Linked DNA regions of Homo sapiens. The protein of the gene in region 1 purifies or fractionates together with the protein of each later gene. This does not show direct contact. Each region holds a gene or a part of one and is shown on either strand. Other genes may lie near its edges.

The links.
Region 2: the proteins of PKD1 (region 1) and JADE1 purify together in Homo sapiens (affinity purification with western blotting; one study listed by BioGRID). This does not show direct contact.
Region 3: the proteins of PKD1 (region 1) and ATP1A1 fractionate together in Homo sapiens (co-fractionation; one study listed by BioGRID). This does not show direct contact.
Region 4: the proteins of PKD1 (region 1) and ANXA10 purify together in Homo sapiens (affinity purification with western blotting; one study listed by BioGRID). This does not show direct contact.
Region 5: the proteins of PKD1 (region 1) and PTPRS purify together in Homo sapiens (affinity purification with western blotting, with the first as the bait; one study listed by BioGRID). This does not show direct contact.
Region 6: the proteins of PKD1 (region 1) and PRKCZ purify together in Homo sapiens (co-immunoprecipitation; one large-scale study listed by IntAct). This does not show direct contact.

Annotation. Positions count from the first base shown.
Region 1 is NC_000016.10:2,111,899-2,115,398, reverse strand, and holds part of PKD1 (polycystin-1 isoform 1 precursor), read left to right. Parts: coding exon 1-21; intron 22-248; coding exon of another isoform or gene 249-364; intron 365-473; coding exon 474-1,229; intron 1,230-2,106; coding exon 2,107-2,238; exon of another isoform or gene 2,239-2,242; intron 2,243-2,333; coding exon of another isoform or gene 2,334-2,358; intron 2,359-2,435; coding exon 2,436-2,611; intron 2,612-2,925; coding exon 2,926-3,059; intron 3,060-3,500. UniProt on the Homo sapiens protein: Component of a heteromeric calcium-permeable ion channel formed by PKD1 and PKD2 that is activated by interaction between PKD1 and a Wnt family member, such as WNT3A and WNT9B. Both PKD1 and PKD2 are required for channel activity.
Region 2 is NC_000004.12:128,847,700-128,851,199, forward strand, and holds part of JADE1 (protein Jade-1), read left to right. Parts: intron 1-1,280; coding exon 1,281-1,468; intron 1,469-3,500.
Region 3 is NC_000001.11:116,379,744-116,383,243, forward strand, and holds part of ATP1A1 (sodium/potassium-transporting ATPase subunit alpha-1), read left to right. Parts: intron 1-3,500. UniProt on the Homo sapiens protein: This is the catalytic component of the active enzyme, which catalyzes the hydrolysis of ATP coupled with the exchange of sodium and potassium ions across the plasma membrane.
Region 4 is NC_000004.12:168,091,114-168,095,336, forward strand, and holds the start of ANXA10 (annexin A10), read left to right. Parts: upstream 1-1,423; 5' UTR 1,424-1,587; coding exon 1,588-1,605; intron 1,606-1,623; exon of another isoform or gene 1,624-4,223.
Region 5 is NC_000019.10:5,218,813-5,222,312, reverse strand, and holds part of PTPRS (receptor-type tyrosine-protein phosphatase S isoform 1 precursor), read left to right. Parts: intron 1-92; coding exon 93-190; intron 191-1,059; coding exon 1,060-1,313; intron 1,314-1,959; coding exon 1,960-2,053; intron 2,054-2,158; coding exon 2,159-2,374; intron 2,375-2,845; coding exon 2,846-3,003; intron 3,004-3,500. UniProt on the Homo sapiens protein: Cell surface receptor that binds to glycosaminoglycans, including chondroitin sulfate proteoglycans and heparan sulfate proteoglycan.
Region 6 is NC_000001.11:2,165,411-2,168,910, forward strand, and holds part of PRKCZ (protein kinase C zeta type), read left to right. Parts: intron 1-2,880; coding exon of another isoform or gene 2,881-3,157; exon of another isoform or gene 3,158-3,500. UniProt on the Homo sapiens protein: Calcium- and diacylglycerol-independent serine/threonine-protein kinase that functions in phosphatidylinositol 3-kinase (PI3K) pathway and mitogen-activated protein (MAP) kinase cascade, and is involved in NF-kappa-B activation, mitogenic signaling, cell proliferation, cell polarity, inflammatory response and maintenance of long-term potentiation (LTP).

The DNA.
Region 1 (3,500 bases):
GGGCCCCCCGCGCAGTACTCGGTGTGTGGCCCTGACCTGGGTCTGTTCCCTGCATCTCCTCAGGCCACCTTCCTGTCTGCTGCCCAGGGTCTGGGTCTGTGCACCAGACACACCCAGCCTGCAGGCCCCTCCCACGTCCTTGCCACCTCTGACCTCCGACCTCTGCAGTGCCCTCGGCCCTCTCCCAGTGGGAGAAGCTCTCGCCTGGGCCCTTGGCACGAGCTGTGCCTCCTCTTCCTCTCTCCCAGCACAGCTGCTCCTTCCTGTCTGCCAGGTCTTGGCCTGTGTCCTCTCCCCGTGTGTCCCCCGGTCTGCAACTGTCCTGCCTGTCCTTGTCACGAGCACTGTGGGGAGGCTCCTTGAGGTGTGGCTGACGAAGCGGGGAGCCCTGCGTGTCCACCCTCATCCGTCGTGCGGGGGTCCACGGGCCATGACCGTGAGGACGTGATGCAGCCCTGCCTCCCTCTCCACAGGTCACCCTCCACGGCCAGGATGTCCTCATGCTCCCTGGTGACCTCGTTGGCTTGCAGCACGACGCTGGCCCTGGCGCCCTCCTGCACTGCTCGCCGGCTCCCGGCCACCCTGGTCCCCGGGCCCCGTACCTCTCCGCCAACGCCTCGTCATGGCTGCCCCACTTGCCAGCCCAGCTGGAGGGCACTTGGGCCTGCCCTGCCTGTGCCCTGCGGCTGCTTGCAGCCACGGAACAGCTCACCGTGCTGCTGGGCTTGAGGCCCAACCCTGGACTGCGGCTGCCTGGGCGCTATGAGGTCCGGGCAGAGGTGGGCAATGGCGTGTCCAGGCACAACCTCTCCTGCAGCTTTGACGTGGTCTCCCCAGTGGCTGGGCTGCGGGTCATCTACCCTGCCCCCCGCGACGGCCGCCTCTACGTGCCCACCAACGGCTCAGCCTTGGTGCTCCAGGTGGACTCTGGTGCCAACGCCACGGCCACGGCTCGCTGGCCTGGGGGCAGTGTCAGCGCCCGCTTTGAGAATGTCTGCCCTGCCCTGGTGGCCACCTTCGTGCCCGGCTGCCCCTGGGAGACCAACGATACCCTGTTCTCAGTGGTAGCACTGCCGTGGCTCAGTGAGGGGGAGCACGTGGTGGACGTGGTGGTGGAAAACAGCGCCAGCCGGGCCAACCTCAGCCTGCGGGTGACGGCGGAGGAGCCCATCTGTGGCCTCCGCGCCACGCCCAGCCCCGAGGCCCGTGTACTGCAGGGAGTCCTAGTGGTGAGTATGGCCGAGGCTCCACCACCAGCCCCCAGGCAGGTGCCTGCAGACAGGGTGCTCACACAGGGCGTGAGGCCTGGCTTCCCAGTGAGGGCAGCAGCCCAGTTACTGGGGACGTCGGCCCCGGGCAGGTCCTGCTGGCTGGCTCCTCGGGCTACCTGGTGGGCTTTAAATTCCTGGAAAGTCACGGCTCTGACAGTGGCTCCGCTAACTCATTCCACTGTCTCATTTCACAAAATGAATTTAAAACTCTGCTCCCTGACCTCACACGAGCCCCCGTGAGTCTCTCACGCCCTCTGCTGTGTTCTCGCCTGGCTAAAGCGAGTGGCTTTTGAGGTGGAGTCTGAACCCCTGATGGGAAACTGCGGGCTGCCCGCGGTGCCACCATGCTGGGTACATGGGGGACAGGGCTGTCTCCATCTTGCGGGTACCTGCCTCTTCACCAGGGGCCTTGGGAGGGGCCATCAGAAATGGCGTGACCTGTGCAGCCTGTCCTGGGTTCTGTAAGCCAGTGTAGGTGCCTCCCCTCACTGCTCCGAGCTCTCTGGGTGAGGAGCTGGGGCAAGAGCGCCGGGAGGGTCTGAGAAGACTCAGAGAGAGGTGGACTCTTTGTAGCTGGTACTAGGTTTGCTTTACAGATGGGGAAACTGAGGCACAGAGAGGTTGAGGCATTAGTAGTACTACATGGCTGGCTGGAGAGCCGGACAGTGAGTGTCCCAGCCCGGGCTTGGCTCCCATGGCATGCAGAGCCCCGGGCACCTCCTCTCCTCTGTGCCCCGCGTGGGACTCTCCAGCCCGACGGGAGGTGTGTCCAGGAGGCGACAGGCTAAGGGCAGAGTCCTCCACAGAGCCCAGGCTGACACCATTCCCCCCGCAGAGGTACAGCCCCGTGGTGGAGGCCGGCTCGGACATGGTCTTCCGGTGGACCATCAACGACAAGCAGTCCCTGACCTTCCAGAACGTGGTCTTCAATGTCATTTATCAGAGCGCGGCGGTCTTCAAGCTCTCAGTAGGTGGGCGGGGGTGGGGAGGGGAGGGGATGGGGCGGGGCAGGGCGGGGGCGGGCTCCACCTTCACCTCTGCCTTCTGCTCTGCTTCATGCTGCCCGAGGACGCTGCCATGGCTGTGGGTGAGTGGAGGGAGGGACGCCAATCAGGGCCAGGCCTCTCACCTGCCACCTGGGCTCACTGACGCCTGTCCCTGCAGCTGACGGCCTCCAACCACGTGAGCAACGTCACCGTGAACTACAACGTAACCGTGGAGCGGATGAACAGGATGCAGGGTCTGCAGGTCTCCACAGTGCCGGCCGTGCTGTCCCCCAATGCCACGCTAGCACTGACGGCGGGCGTGCTGGTGGACTCGGCCGTGGAGGTGGCCTTCCTGTGAGTGACTCGGGGGCCGGTTTGGGGTGGGCACCAGGCTCTTGTCCCAGCCCCAGCCTCAGCCGAGGGACCCCCACATCACGGGGTTGCTTTTCTGAGCCTCGGTTTCCCTGTCTGTTGGGAGGTAACTGGGTGCACAGGAGCCCTGAGGCTGCACGGGAGCCGGGAGAGGCCTCAGCACAGCCGGGTGGGCCCTGAATGGAGGCCCGGGGCGTGACTGCAGAGTGGAGCCTCGGCTGGGTCCCAAGCACCCCCTGCCCCGCCACCGCCCACCCCTGTCCCGGTTCACTCACTGCGTCCCACCGCCCCGGCAGGTGGACCTTTGGGGATGGGGAGCAGGCCCTCCACCAGTTCCAGCCTCCGTACAACGAGTCCTTCCCGGTTCCAGACCCCTCGGTGGCCCAGGTGCTGGTGGAGCACAATGTCATGCACACCTACGCTGCCCCAGGTGAGGGATGAGGGGGTGAGGGGGCCACTGCCTTTCAGGCTCTGAGCACGGGGTCCCCCCAGCTCCCCAGTCAAGCTGCCCCCCTTCCTCCCCAACAGCCCTCACTGTGACCTCACCTGGGCTGATGGCTTAGGCCCCTACTGGGGTGAGGGAGGGGCCAGGCGTGGGGGGAGTGGACAGGGAAGCTGGGCCCCTGAACTGCGCCCCCCGCCCTCCCCGGGCCTGGCTCTTGCTGCTCTGCTGCCCCGAGTGCAGCTGCACTTGGAGGCGGTGCCGTCCTCGCCAGGCAGCCCTCAGTGCTGCTACACCTGTGCTCCGTCCCGCACGTGGCTTGGGAGCCTGGGACCCTTAAGGCTGGGCCGCAGGTGCAGCCGTTCACCCCGGGCTCCTCAGGCGGGGGGCTTCTGCCGAGCGGGTGGGGAGCAGGTGGGGGTGCCGCGG
Region 2 (3,500 bases), on another chromosome or scaffold:
AAGCTGTATTAAAGTTGGAGCCCTGAGCAAGTTGGATCCCTGCTCTTGGCTGAGTAGGAGAAATAAATCCCTTCAGTTTGTCCATGTCAGTGTCACGTAGATAAAATCACTCCCGTAATATAAGGGTGATGAAGGTACTCTGACAGACTCTGGGCAGCCTGTTGACAGTAATTTAAACTGTGGAAATGCATATGTGGAAGGACTTTGTTGAGGCCTGGGGTCTGTGATTAGGAAGATGGCCTTTTTTTGGTTCCAAGTCGGGAGTGATTTGCTCTTGCACATGCAGTCTTATTTTGAGTGGGGTGAGTTGGAAGGCACCACTCCAGGTGTTAAAGGTCGGGAGAGATTGTGTGGCAGTACCAGGAGGAGAAACTTGTGCTTTTGTTCCTGGGATCATGGGTATATGTTGGGAGAGTCAGTCCCCTTCTTGGCTGGGACTCTGTTTCTTAGATTTTTTGGTAATGGCCGGGGTCTTATTTCCTTTTTTTTGTTTGCGTTTGAGACAGTCTCACTCTGTTGCCCAGGCTGGAGTGCAGTGGTGCAATCTTGGCTCACTACAACCTCCGCCTCCTGGGTTCAAGCAATTCTCCTGCCCCAGCCTCCCGAGTAGCTGGGGTTACAGGCGTGTGCCATCATACCTGGCTAATTTCTGTATTTTTAGTAGAGATGGGGTTTCACTGTGTTGGCCAGGCTGGTCTCAAACTCCTGACCTCAAATGATCCGCCTGCCTCGGCCTCCCAAAGTGCTGGGATTACAGGCTTGGGCCACCTTGCCCCAGCCCAAGGCCTGATTTTCTTTTCCCTCTCTCCCTCTTTTTTTTTGTGAGGTGTGAGGGTTGGCGGGTTTCTCCCTCTGGTTCTCAGAGTCTGCTGCGCCTGCCCTGCCTGTGTGGTGCCCTGGTTCTAATGGCCTCCAGCAGGGATGGGCAGGTCTGGTTAAGGGAAAGTGATTTAATGACTAACTCTTGAAATGTATGGGTCAGTGTGTTTTGGTGTTGGCTGCAGGCCAGAGTGGTCAGAGGTGGTGGGCAGGGCACAGCAGGGTCCCGGGAAGCAGATTTTGAAGGCTTCTACAGTGTTTTCATTTGTATCTATTGCCTGTTAGCAGGCTTTAACAACTTCTAGTTAAGGTTTTATTAGCAGTGACATTCAGGTTTTCAGCCTCTGGTGATGACCTGGGGCTCTAAGGGTTGGAAGAGGAAGACATTTGGGGCCTTGTGGCACACTTCATTGTCTGTGGCTGAAAGGGTAACCTGGCTGCCTTGTTTTTTTATTATCCAGGGTTGTGTCTGAAGAGAAATCCCTCATGTTCATCAGGCCCAAGAAGTACATCGTGTCATCAGGCTCTGAGCCTCCCGAGTTGGGCTATGTGGACATCCGGACGCTGGCTGACAGCGTGTGTCGCTATGACCTCAATGACATGGATGCTGCATGGCTGGAACTGACCAATGAAGAATTTAAGGAGATGGGTGAGAGACCATGTATTCTATTATTTTATTAACCAATGATGAATAGAGACATTTTAGGCAGGTAGGTGAGTAGCAGAAAGCTCCTTATTGCCAGTTGCAGGCAGCTCCATCATAGCTTTAGTCAGTGAGAATCGCAGCCCTGCCTTAGATCTCAGCCTGTTTGGCTGTGTCAGATGTGCTGAGATGGTTTCAGAGTGGAAGCAAGGCTCCTCGGCTCAGGCACCAGGGATTCCCATCCCCGCTCTGATCTAACTCCCTCATTCACTTACCTTAAGGAAGCTGAAGTCCAGGGAAACGAAGTGACAAAAGGGCATGGCCCACAGTTACCTGCTCTAGTGTTTTTTTCCTGTGATGCCATTCGGATTCCTTCTTTAGCCGTGGTTTGCTGCTTCTCTAAATGAACACTCTTCCAGGCATGCTCCCCATTTCCAAGCACATCATGTGTGTTTTAACTTGAGCGATTTTCCTTATGTCATGCTGCAAACCTGGAGTTCTTTTTCCCTCCGTTTATCTCTGTCCTGGCTTTCCTTCAGTGAAGCCTGACATTAGCTGTGTGCCCAGCCCTTCTCCACCTCTTTTCTGCAAGCTCATTTTAGCGTATGTAGACGTTGGAGCATCTCATGGTGTTGAGACTGGGATGGCGTATAGGTCTCATCTCACATGCCAGTCCTGATTGCTAAGGGTTGCCTTGAGGGTCTTGATGAACAAGACAGTGGAGTCAAGTCTGGGCTCAGTGTGAAAAACTGTGAGGATTAATTAGCTTTTGTGCTGTAGGTACACGGTGGGGAGGTGGTGGCAAGGGCCATGTATTGTAATCTAGGACATAGTAAATAATCACAAGATCGGCCGGGCTTGTTGGCTCATGTCTGTAATCCCAGCACTTTGGGAAGCCAAGGTGGGCAGATCACCTGAGGTCAGGACTTCAAGACCAGCCTGGCAAACATGGTGAAACCCCGTCTCTACTAAAAATACAAAAATTAGCTAGGCGTCGTGGTGGGTATCTGTGGTCCCAGCCACTCAGGAGGCTGAGGCAGAAGAATCACTTGAGGTGATTCTTCTCAAGTCACTTGAGGGGGTGGAGGTTTCCTTGAGCCGGGATTGTGCCACTGCATTCCCACCTGGGCAACAGAGCCAGACTCCATCTCAAAAAAAAAAAAAAATCACAAGATTTTTGTCATGGTGGATTTCACAGCCTTGAAGGGCCAAGACCTTTTGCGTCTTTCCAGGGAACGTAGCATAGGGTGTGGCTTGCAGTAGATGCTTGTCCTGCCATTAGGCTCACCACCTGTTGAATGGGAGTGATAATGTAGACTGAGCTGAGCATGGTGTTGTCTTCTACTCGCTCAGTTACTCAAGTGTTTTTATAGACAAAATAGACTTCCTTCTTCTTGGTCCTGCTTTAGGTATTAATGGCCAAAACATTAGCAGGCCACAAGGTGGTTTTATGGCATGAGTTCAGGAGTTCTCAGAGATCTTTTGGAATTGAATACTAAATTTTAGCTTCACAGATGATACAGTTTCTGCTGTGTTGTAAGCACATTATAAAGACCAGTGTAATACACTTGACTGGAATCTAGGTGTCCTGTGTTAAGTCAGAGGACTCAGCCCAAAGACTCTTCGCATTTATGAATGGTTTAAATAATAAGAACTGGGCTAATCCATATTTGAAGATACTGTTGAATACATTGGCAAGATTAATTTTGTAATTTTATAACATAAACGGAACGCATGCTTAAATATGTTTGTCTTAGCTGTTATTGGTCTTTTTTTCTTTCTTTTTTGAGATGAAGTCTCGCTCTGTGGCCCATGCTGGAGTGCAGGGGTGCAATCTCGGCTGACTGCAACCTCTACCTCCTGAGTTCAAGCGATTCTCCTGCCCCAGCCTCCCAAGTAGCTGGGATTATTGGCACCTGCCACCATGCCTGGCTAATTTTTGTATTTTTAGTAGAGACAGGATTTCGCCGTATTGGCCAGGTTGGTCGTGAACTCCTGACCTCAAATGATCTACCTGCAAAGTACTGGGATTATAGGC
Region 3 (3,500 bases), on another chromosome or scaffold:
AGAATACTTTTACATACACAATTGTGTTGGATGATTTAATAATGTATCGACCAGGAAAATGAGAAAGCACCCCTCCCCCTTACCTTTTACATTGAAGGTAGCCCAGACTTGGCAGCCTCTAGGGAACCAGCAAGGTCAGAGTCCATCACACAACTTTCCTGCTAAAGTGGTATTTGCCAAATCATGTCCAGAGGTGTTGTTTCTACAATCTTCTTGGCAACTCCGAAATGGGCTGCATTTGGGGCACTTCCTTTTGCCATCCTTCTGGCCCTTCTTGCCCGTCAAAAGCTTTTGTCTGTGGGCTTTGGAAATAGTCCAGTTTTTAAGGTGTTTTATTTTTCAGAGTTAATGGTTTCTTGACTAATCAGACTATGAAAATGCCTTCTCTAGGTTCTTTAATAGTTATACCAAGTGTTATTCCCATTTTAGGAATGAAGAAACTAAGGCTGACAGGCAAAGGTCATGTAGCCAGCATGTGGCAACACTAGAATAAATTGGCAGACTCAACACCATTAGCAGACCTGTCTGGAGGGAATGGTGGGTCTTGAACTTTCAAGTACCCTCTAAACTTTTTCAGCAGGAATTTCAGAAGTCTCAAGAATTCTGAGCTCCCTGCTGGCCATGGGACATTGTGCTGATATGGTGGGAAAAATGCAGGTTGAGAAAGCCTTCGCATCCTGCCCTGTTGGAGGCTGGTGTTTGGGATGGGTATGAAGGCCTTTGGCGGTGGCTATAGCTTATGCAGACCTGAAGCAATATACCTCTGGGATGGAAGATCCTGCTTATTTTGGGATAATTTCTAAATCTGTCATATCTATCCCCAACCCTGTCCCCATTAAATGGCTAATTGCCAAAAAAGAGGAAGCAACATCTTCAGCTCTAGCAAGTCTCGGGGATGTCTCACTCATTGTGAGGACTGTGAGGATTCGGTATATATTTTTAAGTGAGTGAACCTTGTTACATGTTTTAACCTTGGTTCCTCCTGTCAAGAATTTTATCTTCTCATGTCTTGGGCACCTTTTCCCTCTACCCAGATCAAATAGCAAAATGCTTAGTTAATCTTTGAGAGGATAGAATCCATGGGAAGCACAGGATGAAATGATGACGCTGTGCTAAGCTGTGTCACCGTGGGTAAGCCCCTGCCCTTGCTGTGACTTTCCACTTCCTAAATTAGAATGGAAGGGGGAAAAAAAAAAACCATAACCCAACTTCATTTTTATGAGTGGCCCTTTAGAAAATAGTGTAATCCGTTGAGTTTCCATTGTACCTTTCCTCAGAGATGCTCAAAGGGGCGGGGGTGCCCTTACATGGAACATGATGAGAGTGAGGATTAATCACTCCCAGTCCTCTGGGAGGGGGGAAGTGACCTGAACTTTCTAATTGAAAAAGTAGGAAGTGTGTGCCCAATGCCCAGATGAGTGGGAAGATTACTGTAGTTGATTGAGGAAATGCCGTATTTATCATTCACCCTTCCCATGACCTTTGTTTTTCCCTAATGCCTTAAAAAATAATAAGGAAACATTGTCCTACCTGATTCTACCACTGTTCATCTCACGCAGTGTGCACTCCCTGACTCTGAATTTTGCAGCTTTGAGACTGAGGTAATTGAGACTGATAGGGATTTAAGGATATTTGGTTCCCACAAGAATAAGCTAATATTAAGTTATTATTTTACTTGTGGAGAAGAACTAAATTGTATAAGCTGCCTGGTTCTTCTAGACACACATTGCCTAGTGAAAAAATTAAAATTTTGAAGAAAAAGCAGTTTTACTTGTTAATACTTGCCATGTGTCTCACCCACAAATAGCCTCATTTAAAACTTTGCCTTACCTAGCATGAATGGATAAAGAAAAAGGAGAGTTATTAGGGAATCTAAATTCCCAACTAACTTTAGCACTGATAGTGGTGAAGCTATGGGCAAGACATTTATTTTGTAAGTGGGGGTAAAACTTTGGAACGTGTTCAAAGCCTAGCTGCTCTAGTAATCCTCTCTCCTCTTCTGGAGTGGAAGATATTGGAAGTCTGAGAATAAGCAAAGCATGCAGATTATGAAGCTGAGGGGTTATAACTATTTCATTTATTGAAATATATTTCAATGATATTCAACTTGCTCAGAGAGAATCCGTGAGCTGTATTTTAAAAATCAATACAGGCTGGGCACGGTGGCTCACGCCTGTAATCCCAGCACTTTGGGAGGCCGAGGTGGGTGGATCATGAGGTAAGGAGTTCAAGACCAGCCTGGCCAAGATGGTGAAACCCCGTCTCTACTAAAAATACAAAAATTAGCCAGGCGTGGTGGCGAGCGCCTATAATCCCAGCTACTCAGGAGGCTGAAGCAGGGAATTGCTTGAACCCTTGGGCGGAGGTTGCAGTGAGCTTAGATTGCGCCACTGCACTCCAGCCTGGGCGACAGAGTGAGACTCCATCCCCAAAAAAAAGAAAATTAATACAAAGTGGTCACATAAATCTTTTAGAGATCCTTAGTCAATGTCTTTAAAATGTTTTTTAAGTGTTGTGCTTTCTCATTAAAGGTATGATATACCTTTAATTAAAGCTAAAGATATACCACTTTAGCTGTGGTTCCTTTCTGGTAGATGACCTGCCTTTTCCTTTTTGTTTTATTTGTCCACTTGTATGTGTTACTATTTTTCATTTAAACTCTGGCACCAAGAGCTGTACCGAAAGAGGCACCAACAAATGTGGTTGCTCCATAATGGAGAGAATGTCAAGAATGTTGACTATCTTTAGACCTGCTTCATTAATAGATAAGATAGAAACTAAAGAACCCACCCAGTTGGAAGAAGTTATTAGTCAAGTAGTGCTGCACACGTGACCACAGAAGTTAAAAAGGTAAATAATGTGTCTCTACATGTGGCCCACTCCAGTGAATTTGGAGAAGGATTTCTCCTTGGAGTCTTAAGAGGATATTTTTAAATTTAAGTGAACAATGTATTTTATTTGCAACTATTAGTTATGACTGAAACACACATAATACGTTTTGATTTTCTTTTTTCATTTCAGCACAGTGAAATTATAATCTGGACACGAGTTCCTAATTATTGCTTTAGTAGCTGGTAATGCACTTAGGAAAGTTAGAAATGAGTAAAGGAGAACCACAAAATAATAGTAATAGCACCATATGTCATGCATTTTAAGAAAATTGCTAATGTCTACTTTTTGGCCTTAAGTTGTAGTTGTGGGAGGCTGCTTCAGGGGGAGGTGTCTGGAACAAGGGGCTCTTCTGCTCCGCTAAGCTTTGGAGCACCAAGTTCAGGCTTTGTGTAGATAAGCTCAAGGATTTTTCAACAGGGGTGGGGGAGTGGAACAATCTAAATTTAAACTATAGAATCAACATTTTCTTTAAAAATTGTTCCAGTTTTCAAGAGGCGTAGGTGGATCCTGTGAATTATGTGATAATGCACACGCTTTTCCTACATCCTGCTTATGTCAAAACATTTCCAGAGACTTTCATTTTGGAGGTTTTATTTTCAGGCTACAGA
Region 4 (4,223 bases), on another chromosome or scaffold:
TCTATTGTTTCTAATTAAAAAACAATTTTAGTTGAAAATTCTTCTTTTGTTTCTAATTCTGAATCCTATAGTTTTAATAAGTATATCTATTATTTTATAATTGCTATATGCTGTCTACATATAGCAATTATACAATATAAATTATACAATTATAGCAATTATACAATATAAATTATACAATTTTATAATTGCTATATGCTGTCTACATAGCAAAAACACAAGACCCTGATTCATACACAGACACATACACATACATAGTAGGACCTACTAGATTTTAATGTTTTTGAGCCAAGCAGCATGGTTCCATATATCTCTCATAGTACCAGGTATACTGGTAAGGTAATCAGATAATATTATAAATTGAATGCTGAAGAATATATATATATAGTTGCTCATTATATATATATATATTTGTGTTTGTGTGTGTGTGTGTGTGTGTATTACATAAATACATACTGCTTCATGGCTTTTACTCATATTTTAACATCAGAATTATTTTGGGTAGTTCTAGACCTATGGATGCTGATCAGTTGACACTTGTCTTGTTAGTATTTGGTTCTTTCAATAAAGGATTATTTGCTCCTAATTCTTATTCAAAGTATTTTAAAATTTTTATAAATGAACACTATATTGTTCAATAAATAGCAAGTAGCAGTAAAATAATATAATACAGATTCATTTTGTTATTTTTGGAATCATATATGAATGTATCTAGATAGTTTCCAACACTATATTGAACTTTACAGGTTTTTCTAAAATTTATTTCCTTAAAATGCAATAGTTAATATTAAAATTACATATATATAAATATAGGAAAATTAAGTGCAAAAATGATGGTGAATATATTTCTCCAAAGACTTTTATTGGTGGATAATGAATTCTTTTCTAAATATATTTAAAATAATTTTTTTTTAATTTGTGTATTTTTAGTAGAGACGGGGTTTCGCCATGTTGGGCAGCCTGGTCTCGAATTCCTGACCTCAAGTGATCTGCCTGCCTTAGCCTCCCAAAGTGCTGGGATTAGAGGCATGAGCCACCAGGCCCAGCCCCTAAATACATTATTTTTTAATATAAGAGCAGATAAACAGTAGTTGAAATATTCTTTTAAAATTGTATGGATACACATAGAACCTAGCAATTTAAGATAGGAAACTAGGGCTGGAGCACCTGAAAGAGTTTCCATGTTAACAACAATTAAGCAGAAAATAAATGATTAACTTTATGGGTAATCAACTTAGCTTTCCATAAGTCATCAGCTTTTTCAAAAGATTACATTTCTTTCATTAGTTGGCTACTTTATGTGTCTTAAATCAACATACAACTGGGGATTAGGTTAATGGTTCTACTTATTTTGTGCAATAATTCTGCCTACTCACCTATGACTGATAACTAAGTATAAATACAGTATCTCAAGTCATGCTGTATCCAGATTTGCTTTTACATTTTCTTGCCTGAGTCTGAGGTGAACAGTGAACATATTTACATTTGATTTAACAGTGAACCTTAATTCTTTCTGGCTTCACAGTGAAACAAGTTTATGCAATCGATCAAATATTTTCATCCCTGAGGTTAACAATTACCATCAAAATGTTTTGTGGAGACTATGTGAGTATAATGCTTATTTCTGTAAAGCTTTTCACTCTTTTGAAACTTGATTTATAAAATTTCATTTGTGTTTTTTGACGTTTTTAACAGAAAATGTTGTTCTAATTTGTTTTTATTCTTACTACTTTCTTACTATTTTATGCCCATTTTTTGAAAGAAACATTTATAGAATATTTAAATTTTATTTCTGGGATTATTAAACATTACTATGATAACAAGATTTTTTTAATGCAATTATTTGCTATGCTTCTGAAGCAAATAAAGAAAACTGAAGATTAAAGATTTGGATTTGAGCATACCTAAGAATCCATTTAATTAGTGGGTCTTCAATATAACTATTAAACAGAGTTAATATTATGAAATCTTAAATCCATGCTAATTTTGAAACAACGTATTATCCCACAGAGGCAAGTTACTTTCATATGTAATTTGATTCAGAATTCTAACTGAAGTTATCATAAGATTTTTTATCTCGATATTTACTTCTATCTATAAAAAATTAAAATAATTTTGACTATTAATTTTATTTTAAATCCATGCTTTCTGTAAAAGATAGCTTATTTTTGAATAATTTTCTGTTGAATAGAAGCAATGTATAACAAGATTTAGTCTTTTTTTTGGCCTTGTCTGAATCATTTTAGTCCAACTGCTCTAATAGTCATTCACTTTTTAAAAAGCCAACATGAACATTAAGTTGTCTGAATATGCTTTATATGAAAAGGTCTCCATTTCACATGGTCTTGAAAATTATATACAAATGTGAATTTATGCCTTGTGGTCTTAGAAATTATATACAAGTATATGTGTGTTAATGATGATTCTTTACAAATCTATACTATAAAAAAACTTTCAGGAGACTGAGGCAAGAGAATGGCGTGAACCCGGGAGGCGGAGCTTGCAGTGAGCCGAGATCGCGCCACTGCACTCCAGCCTGGGCGACAGAGCGAGACTCCATCTCAAAAAACAAAAAACAACTTTCTGGGAACTTTTATGCAAAAAAATTATAACATAATTATTTTGTTAAACTTTGGCACACAAAACATTGTTTACTCATACAAAGTAATCAATGCAGGAAAATTTTACTTATATATTGTGTTTCTTAAGATAAATACTGAATTAGGACTTAAAAGGCAGCTATTTTCCATCACTGTTAGTTTAACAATCTTAATTTCATCTTAAGATTTCAAGATCTCATTTTGCAGTTGAAAGTTACCATTATTGTTTTATTAATTGTAAGGTGGTTATATTTCACTACAGAGAAAAAAAGGTATCAAGTAATTAGGCCAGCATGGTAAATGATTAAATTTGCAAATGCCTATTGTTTTCTCTCTCTGTTCATTTGAGTATAGTTATTTGGGAGTAATTACTATTATATTCTATGCATTGTGTGGTCTAATGTTACTATTTATATGCCCATTTTTCAAAAGAAACATATTTTATAGAATATTTAAATTATATTTCTGGGATTATTAAACATTACCAGGCTAACAAGATTTTTTTTAAATGCAATTATTTGCTATGCTTCTGAAGCAAATAAAGAAAACTGAAGATTAAAGATTTGGATTTGAGCATACCTAAGAATCCATTTTAAGTACTTTTGATTAGCTATTTTAGAGATGAATGTTATGTTTTATGTATAATCTCAGCAAGCCTGGATGGTAAAATGGTTTTACATAATCAATATCAGTATAGTTTAAAGTAATTTTCTATCTTAAGGTATATGACCCCAGTGGTCAGAATTTAGTGCTAAAAAGGCCAATATTTGAGGCCAAGCTTATCTCTTTAATCGGATGTTCTCAAGCAAGAGACTGGCTCTTCTGTTGACAAGTAATTTCTTATTTTATAATGTGGGTAGTAATTGACTGAGTTGTTTGTTAAAGATATGTCCCTAGATCCTCCTTATTTAGCAGTCCTGATGCAGTATATATAACATCTGAACTTATACACTTGATATAAAAGGGTTACCATTTTTGAGAACCACAGAGATAGGTAGTTCATTACTCTCAAAGTATAGAAAATTTAAATATACTTCAAGCAAGAGACAAGAATCATGGAAAAATGGTTACATTTCTGTAGGAGATAAACATACATAATATGTTAAAATTATTTTCTATATTTCTGGAGTTAGGCGGGCCCCAGTGATTAAGGTAGTTTAAGTGTGCTTGTTACATTAAGAAGGAAATTTATCTTTGGTGCACTAGTGTATTTTACTTATGTGCTTGACTGTAAGACCATCTTTCAAAAGCAAGGTTTAATTAAGAGATTATTGCAAGCCTGAGTTTTGATATATTAGTCAGATATAAATCACATCATAGGAAGATATTATTATAATATTATAATAGCTCTCTTAGAATGGAGGAAATTTTACTATACAGTGTACTTGCCCAAGTCAGGATCTAAACCCAGGTATCTCTACATCCCTAGAGCTCAAATTCTTTTTATTAATATATAATGTCTCTTTAGAATACACCTGCCTCTTTAGAATACAATTTTCTTGTAAAAATTGTTCGCTGATTTTGTCCTGTTTTGTCATCAGCTGATCCCCCTTGTTCATACAGTAGCATCTTATTTACTATAGATTCATTTCTTAGATGATACCCTTCCTTTTGACCTCTAAT
Region 5 (3,500 bases), on another chromosome or scaffold:
CGCCCCACCCCACCCCGCTTCACGCCACCCAGTGCCAGGCACTCATGGGGCCTCTCTTCTGCTCTCTCCCTGCTCGGCCGCCTCCCCGGCAGTCTCGCCCAAGAACTTCAAGGTGAAAATGATCATGAAGACATCAGTTCTGCTCAGCTGGGAGTTCCCTGACAACTACAACTCACCCACACCCTACAAGGTGCGACTGCCCAGCCAGCAGGCAGGCAGGCAGGCAGGGTCAGGGGTTGTAGTTCAGCAGGGCTTAAGGCTCAGTTTGGAGTTGGTGTGAAGTGAGGGATCAGGGCTCAGTCAGAGATGGGTCTCAGCTAGGATTGAGGCTTAGTCAATACTGGGAATCAGACTTGGGGCCCAGCCTAGGATTGGAGATCAGCTGGAACTGAGGTTCAGTCAATATTGGGGATCAATGTTGGGCTCAGCCTTGGATTGTGGCTTAGCTGGGATTGAGGTTCAGTCTGGGATTAAGATTTAGTCCATATTGGAAATCAGAGTTGGGGCTCAGCCTTAGATCATGGCTTAGCTGGGACTGAGGCATAATCAGGATTGGGACTCAGAGTTGGTACTTAGCCTGAGGTCAGAGTTTAGTCTGGAGTTGGTGCCAAGTCTGGGATCGGGGGTCAGCCTGGGATTGAGGTTCAGTCTGAGATCAGGAATCAGTCTAGGATCAGGTCTCAGAGGTGGGTTTCCACCTAGGGTCAGCGCTCAGCTGGAATTCAGGATCAGTCTGGGTTCAGGGTTCAGTGGGATTGGGGCTCAGTCGGGACTGGGAATTCAGCATGGGATCAGGGCTCAGTCAAAGTGGGCTTCTACCTAGGATCAGGACTCAGCTGGAATTTAGGCACAGTCTGGGGTCAGGGTTCAGTGAGGTTGGGGCTCAGTCAGAGTTGGGGACTCAGCCTGGGATCAGGGATCAGTCAGTGTTAGATTTCTGCCTAGGGCAGGATTCAGTGGGATCAGGGCTCAGTCAGGGTGGGGGACTCATCCTGGAGCTGGGGCTCAGTCCATGGGCATGAGCCCACCAGGCCCTGCTGAGCTAGCCCTGGTCCGCAGATCCAGTACAATGGGCTCACACTGGATGTGGATGGCCGTACCACCAAGAAGCTCATCACGCACCTCAAGCCCCACACCTTCTACAACTTTGTGCTGACCAATCGCGGCAGCAGCCTGGGCGGCCTCCAGCAGACGGTCACCGCCTGGACTGCCTTCAACCTGCTCAACGGCAAGCCCAGCGTCGCCCCCAAGCCTGATGCTGACGGCTTCATCATGGTGTATCTTCCTGACGGCCAGAGCCCCGTGCCTGTCCAGTATGCTCACCCCCATGCTCCGGGTTCCTTGTCACCCCCATCAGCCTACTATATGGCTGGGGCAAGCCACGTGCCCTCTCTGTGCCTCAATTTCCTTGCCTATGAAACACAGACCCTATCAGCCCTAGTTCATGGGGTCATCCAAGATTCAATGCTTCTCATGGGTCATTGTCACTAAATGTGTCCTGTGTCTGCTCTTCTAGCATTTCCTGATACCCCATATGCCTGACCCTCCACTGGGTATTACTAGGGCCCCTGAAAGGATTTGGTTCTGGGCTTCCCAACTAGTGGGGAGGCAAAGCTGAGAGTCCCCAGTGGGGAGAGGAGCACTCTGCCTCAGAGGCAGAGAAGATTTAAGGGCTACAAGGTTATGTGGGCATTGAAGCTGGAGCTTTGAAGGATGTATAGGAGTTTAACAATGAGCATTACATGAAGTAAGCCTTCTACGCAGAAAGTACAGCATCATCCAAGGCCTGGAGGCCTGAGTCAGCAACTGTGGCGTTTGTGGATGGGGCATAGGGGAATAGGCTCATTGTATGAACAGAAGGGAAGACTCAGAGAAACGGCTTCCCCCGTTTGCCCCCATGAAGCATCCCTTGGTCATCCCTATCGACAGCCCCTCTGACTCTTTCCCATCTCCCTACAGGAGCTATTTCATTGTGATGGTGCCACTGCGCAAGTCTCGTGGAGGCCAATTCCTGACCCCGCTGGGTAGCCCAGAGGACATGGATCTGGAAGAGGTGAGGGCCTGGGGCCCAACCCGCAGGGCCCAGATGCATTCCAGTTTTCACGTGCTCTGTTGCTCCCAGCTGAGCTCTGAGCCACCCATGACTCTGTTCCCGCAGCTCATCCAGGACATCTCACGGCTACAGAGGCGCAGCCTGCGGCACTCGCGTCAGCTGGAGGTGCCCCGGCCCTATATTGCAGCTCGCTTCTCTGTGCTGCCACCCACGTTCCATCCCGGCGACCAGAAGCAGTATGGCGGCTTCGATAACCGGGGCCTGGAGCCCGGCCACCGCTATGTCCTCTTCGTGCTTGCCGTGCTTCAGAAGAGCGAGCCTGTAAGTCCTGAATGGTGTCCGCCCACATCCAGACACACCTCTGAATGAGGCAGACCCCATTCCCCAGGGCCCTGACCTCTGTGGTCAGTCACAGGCAGCTCCCTGTGGTCAGAGCTGGGCAGAGGGGAAGACTTGGGAGCGGAGGGATCCTGAAACGAAGGTTTCTTAGAGGAAGAGACCTTGGAGCTGGGGCGTTGAGGGGTGAGTAGGAGTTCAACAAAGAAAAAGCATCCCAGGATTTGCATGTGCAAAGGTCTGGAGGTACAGAAAGGAGAGTGGCTGGAGCAGAGAAGGGAATGGGGAGAGCAAAGATTGGCAGGGACCAGGTCACATAGGCCACCAGGGTCAAGGTTCTAGGAATATAGGAGGATCTAGAGCGGGGGAGAAACGTAGGTTCATGTTTGAGAAAGACCCATCTGGCCACTACAAGGAGGGTGGACACTGATGGAGACCCCCCTCCTTTCCCTGCAGACCTTTGCAGCCAGTCCCTTCTCAGACCCCTTCCAGCTGGATAACCCGGACCCCCAGCCCATCGTGGATGGCGAGGAGGGGCTTATCTGGGTGATCGGGCCTGTGCTGGCCGTGGTCTTCATAATCTGCATTGTCATTGCTATCCTGCTCTACAAGAAGTAAGCCCCATGTCCTCCCCGACTTGACTTGACAGCAGGGAGGGCTTCCTGGAAAAGGAGGGAGGAGTTGTCTCAGAGAATCATCACTAAAGGTCTCTGTTGTACACATGGGGAAACCGAAGTTCAGAGAGGTTAAGCCACTTGATCAAGGTCACACAGCATGGGAATGGCAGAGCTAGGGCTCAAAGCAGGCCAGTGGCTTGGCTTCTCCTCTTAACCCCTATCTTCAACTCAGCAAGATTTGGGGTAGAGGCTGCCTGTGTCCAGTTCAATGAGGATAGCAATTGTAGTGGCCCCATGGGGCACATCCCAGGGCTGAGATAAGCCTCCTTGTGGTGTCGATAGGCAGGGGGACAAACAGGAAATATGAGCACCATTTTCCAGAGGAGACCAAAGCTCACAGAGGTTAAGGAAGGCACTGAGAGTCACAGAACAAGCCCTTGATGGCCGGCACACCCTCACCTTTCTTCTTTTTTTCCCCCTTCTCACCTGTGTCT
Region 6 (3,500 bases), on another chromosome or scaffold:
CCCCTAACCTGTCTGTGCCTCGGCTTCCCCATCTGTAAAATGGCGAGAGCTGAACTTACTTCCTGGTGATGGGGTCAAGTGCGTTAACACAGAGGGACTTGGAGACTGACGCTTACTGAGGGCCACACCAGCGGTCAGCAAAGGTTGTCTTAAAGGGTCAGGCAGTAAATATTTCCACCTTTGTGGGCCATGCGGCCTCTGTGGCAACTATGCGTTCTAAAACAGAAGCAGCCTTAGACACTGCGTGAAGGGACGCGTGTGGCCGTGTTCCACCAGAACTTTCTGTACACACATGGTGGTGGCCCGCCCGGACCCATCTGGTTAATTCTTGACTCTCAGGGCAGCGTCTCCTGTGCCTCCAGGAGAGGGCTGTGGTTCCTCCCTCTGAGCCGGGCACCTTGCATTCCTGGAAGGGGTGGGGGGAGTGGCGAGGAGGGGGCGGCACCAAGGACAGGGCCCACCTCCTAGGAGGTTTTGTGAGCTTCCCTCAGCCCCCGGCCGCCCCCTAGGAGGTTTCGTGAGCTTCCAGCATCCCCCTGCGGCCACTGTCCCTCCATTTCCCATGTCTGTTGGATGGTGCCGGTTCCAGGGCAGGGTCAGGGACTGGATCCGGCTGCGGTCTGCGTCTCGCCTGGTTCCTGAGAGCTGCACTTTGTCTTTGGTTGTTGATGAATCCATTTTTGCTGGCGTTCTTCACGTTTGTGTATTTGATTAAGTATCATGGACAGGCATGTGCAGTGGCTCACACCTGTAATCCCAGCCCTTTGGGAGGCTGAGGCCGGAGGATCACTTGAGGCCAGGGGTTCAAGACCAGCCTGGGAAATATCTCGAGACCCTTTCTCTACAAAAAATTTAAAAATTAGCTGGCGGTGGTGGTGCAAGCATGTGGTCCCAGCTCCTCGGGAGGCTGAAGCCGGAGGATTGCCTGAGCCTGGGAGGTCGAGGCTGCAGTGAGCCATGATCACACCACTGCACTCCAGCCTGAGTGACAGAGTGAGATCTTGTCTCAGAAAAACAGCCCCGAGGGCACGTGTCTCATGACTCCCGCCTCCCGCCTCCCATCTGGGCTCTGCTTGCTCCTCTCCCCTTGCAAACATGAGAGGAGCGTTAATGCCAGGACAGGGAGCAGGGAGGGGCATCCCCAGCGCCTCCAGGCCACAACATGGCGAGTGTGGCTACCAGGACACGGAGGGGCAGCCTCAGCCCCCTCCCCCAGGCCACGACATGGCGAGTGTGGCTACCAGGACACGGAGGGGCAGCCTCAGCCCCCCCCAGGCCACGACATGGCGAGTGTGGCTACCAGGACATGGAGGGGCACCTTCAGCCCCCCACCCCCACCCCCAGGCTGTGCTTCCCAGCATCCCTTGGGGTCAGGACTGTGTGTGTCACTGAGGGGCTACGGGTGAAGCCACACACGCCCCTGGCCTGGCCTTGCGCCCCTGCCTGAGAGCCTCTATGCAGGACAGCGCCTGTGGGGCACCCAAGTGGGCCGAGCCCATGTGGATTACAGGTGCACACCACCAGCGTGAGGAGAGGAGTGGGCTCGGAGCATGCTCAGCCATGGTCCCAGGCATCTTGTCAGCAGCCAGCTCAGCTTGTGTCACGCAGAGTCGCCTTAGAGTGAATTGACACCAGATTGTCCTGGTGGGTTTTTGCTCTGAAGAAATGTCAAAAGTAGCATTAAGGTTTTTCTGTAGACAAAAAAACCCCACCATCATTGCAGCTTGAGCAGTTGCAAATTAAATAAATTCCTTCCTCAGCAAGCTGCCTGGGTCCTAGGCCTTGGGCAGAGAGAACTGGCTTTCAGCACAGTTCCCGTGATTGGCTTTTCTCTGGAGAAGAAGGGGAAGCGGCCTCCGCCTCTACCTCTCTAAGTGTTTAAATGTCCCCCAAATTCTCTCAGCCTCCTGAGGCATTGTATTGATGCTTTTCTCTAGAATTCATGTATTTCTTTATTTTCTCTGGAAATGGCATTGGCTTTGTCCCCGTCCTATGGGCCGTGATAGCTTAAAGTTAGGATGAACCCACAGAGGCCGTGGAGGCCCTTCCCAGGCGCCGCAGCAGCACTGTTGGGGTGAACGTGGCTCCTCTCGGGGGGACAGGTGGAAGGGACCAGCACCCATTGGGGCGTGTAACTCCTGGTGGCAAAAAATGTGCGGTGAAGTCACCCTAAGGGTTTTTGTGGTTTTTTGTATTTTTATTTTATTCTTTGAGACAGAGTCTTGCTCTGTCGCCCAGGCTGGAGTGCAGTGGCGCAATCTCAGCTCACTGCAGCCTGTGCCTCCTGGGTTCAGGCGATTCTCCTGCCCTCAGCCTCCCGAGTAGCTGAGATTACAGGTGCACACCACCAGCCCTGGGTCATTTTTGTATCTTTAGTAGAGATGAGGTTTCACCATGTTGGCCAGGATGGTCTCGAACTCCTGACCTCAGGTGATCTGCTTGCCTTGGCCTCCCAGAATGCTGGGATTACAGGCCTCGTGAGCCACCACGCCCAGGCACTCTAAGGGTTTTGAATAAATTCTTTCTTAACGTTTTCTGACCGACTCTTAGGTCGTGGGTGTCCTCCAGGGGTTGGAGGCCTTCATGGAGCTTCGTTCCGTGGGGTTGACGTTACTGAACGAGTCCCTCCACGGGTGCACTGAGGACGTTCCTGCACATCGAGGGCACCCTCAGAGCTGCTCTTTCTGTCATTGCTATTTTGTTTATACCGGGGATTGGCAAACTTTTTCTTGAAGGGCCCAAGAGTAGACATTTTTGGCTTTGCGGCCACAGGGTCTCTGTTAGCAACTCCCTCTGCCACGGTGGCTGGAAAGCAGACATAGAAAATAGATGCACCAGTGAGCATAGCCTCGTTCCAATAAAACTTTATTTACAAAACAGGGAGCAGTGGACCAGCGAGTCCCCAAGGACAAGGGCCAGGTTACCAGAGAATTTCCAGGCACATCCGTTGGAGGCAGGGGAGACAACAAAAGCCGAGGAACGAGCCTTCCCCAGCCGCTCCCCAAAGGCACGGCTTATTCTTCAGGGTGCCCGACTGGCCACGTGGACGTCTCTCCAGCTCCTCACTTGGGGCCCAGGGCTCTTTCGATTTTTAGGAGTTTGTTTCCAATCAGAAACTTCACAGATGATTTGCAGCCAGTTCACCTGCCCTGTGTAAACTGGCCTCTGTCCTCTCTGGCTTAATTCTGGGAGCTTGTGGAGGGCAGGAGCAGGGACAGGTGCCTTGAGGCGTAACAGTGGCGGTGGTGTGGGAGCTTGCGTGGGATCGAAGGAAACGGGCAGAGTCACCACACGCTTCCCTCCTTCACTCCCCGCTCCACGAGGGGCAGCCAGGAGCAGCCACCAGTCGGAAGCAAATAAACAATTCAGGTGCCAGAGGAGCCGCTGACCTAAAAAAACCCGCCACAGGGTATTTCTGGGAGATTGTATGAGAATTTAATTTTGAAAATTGAGTCTCATGAAATGTAGGAAAAGATCTTATTAGGAAGAGAAACCATGTG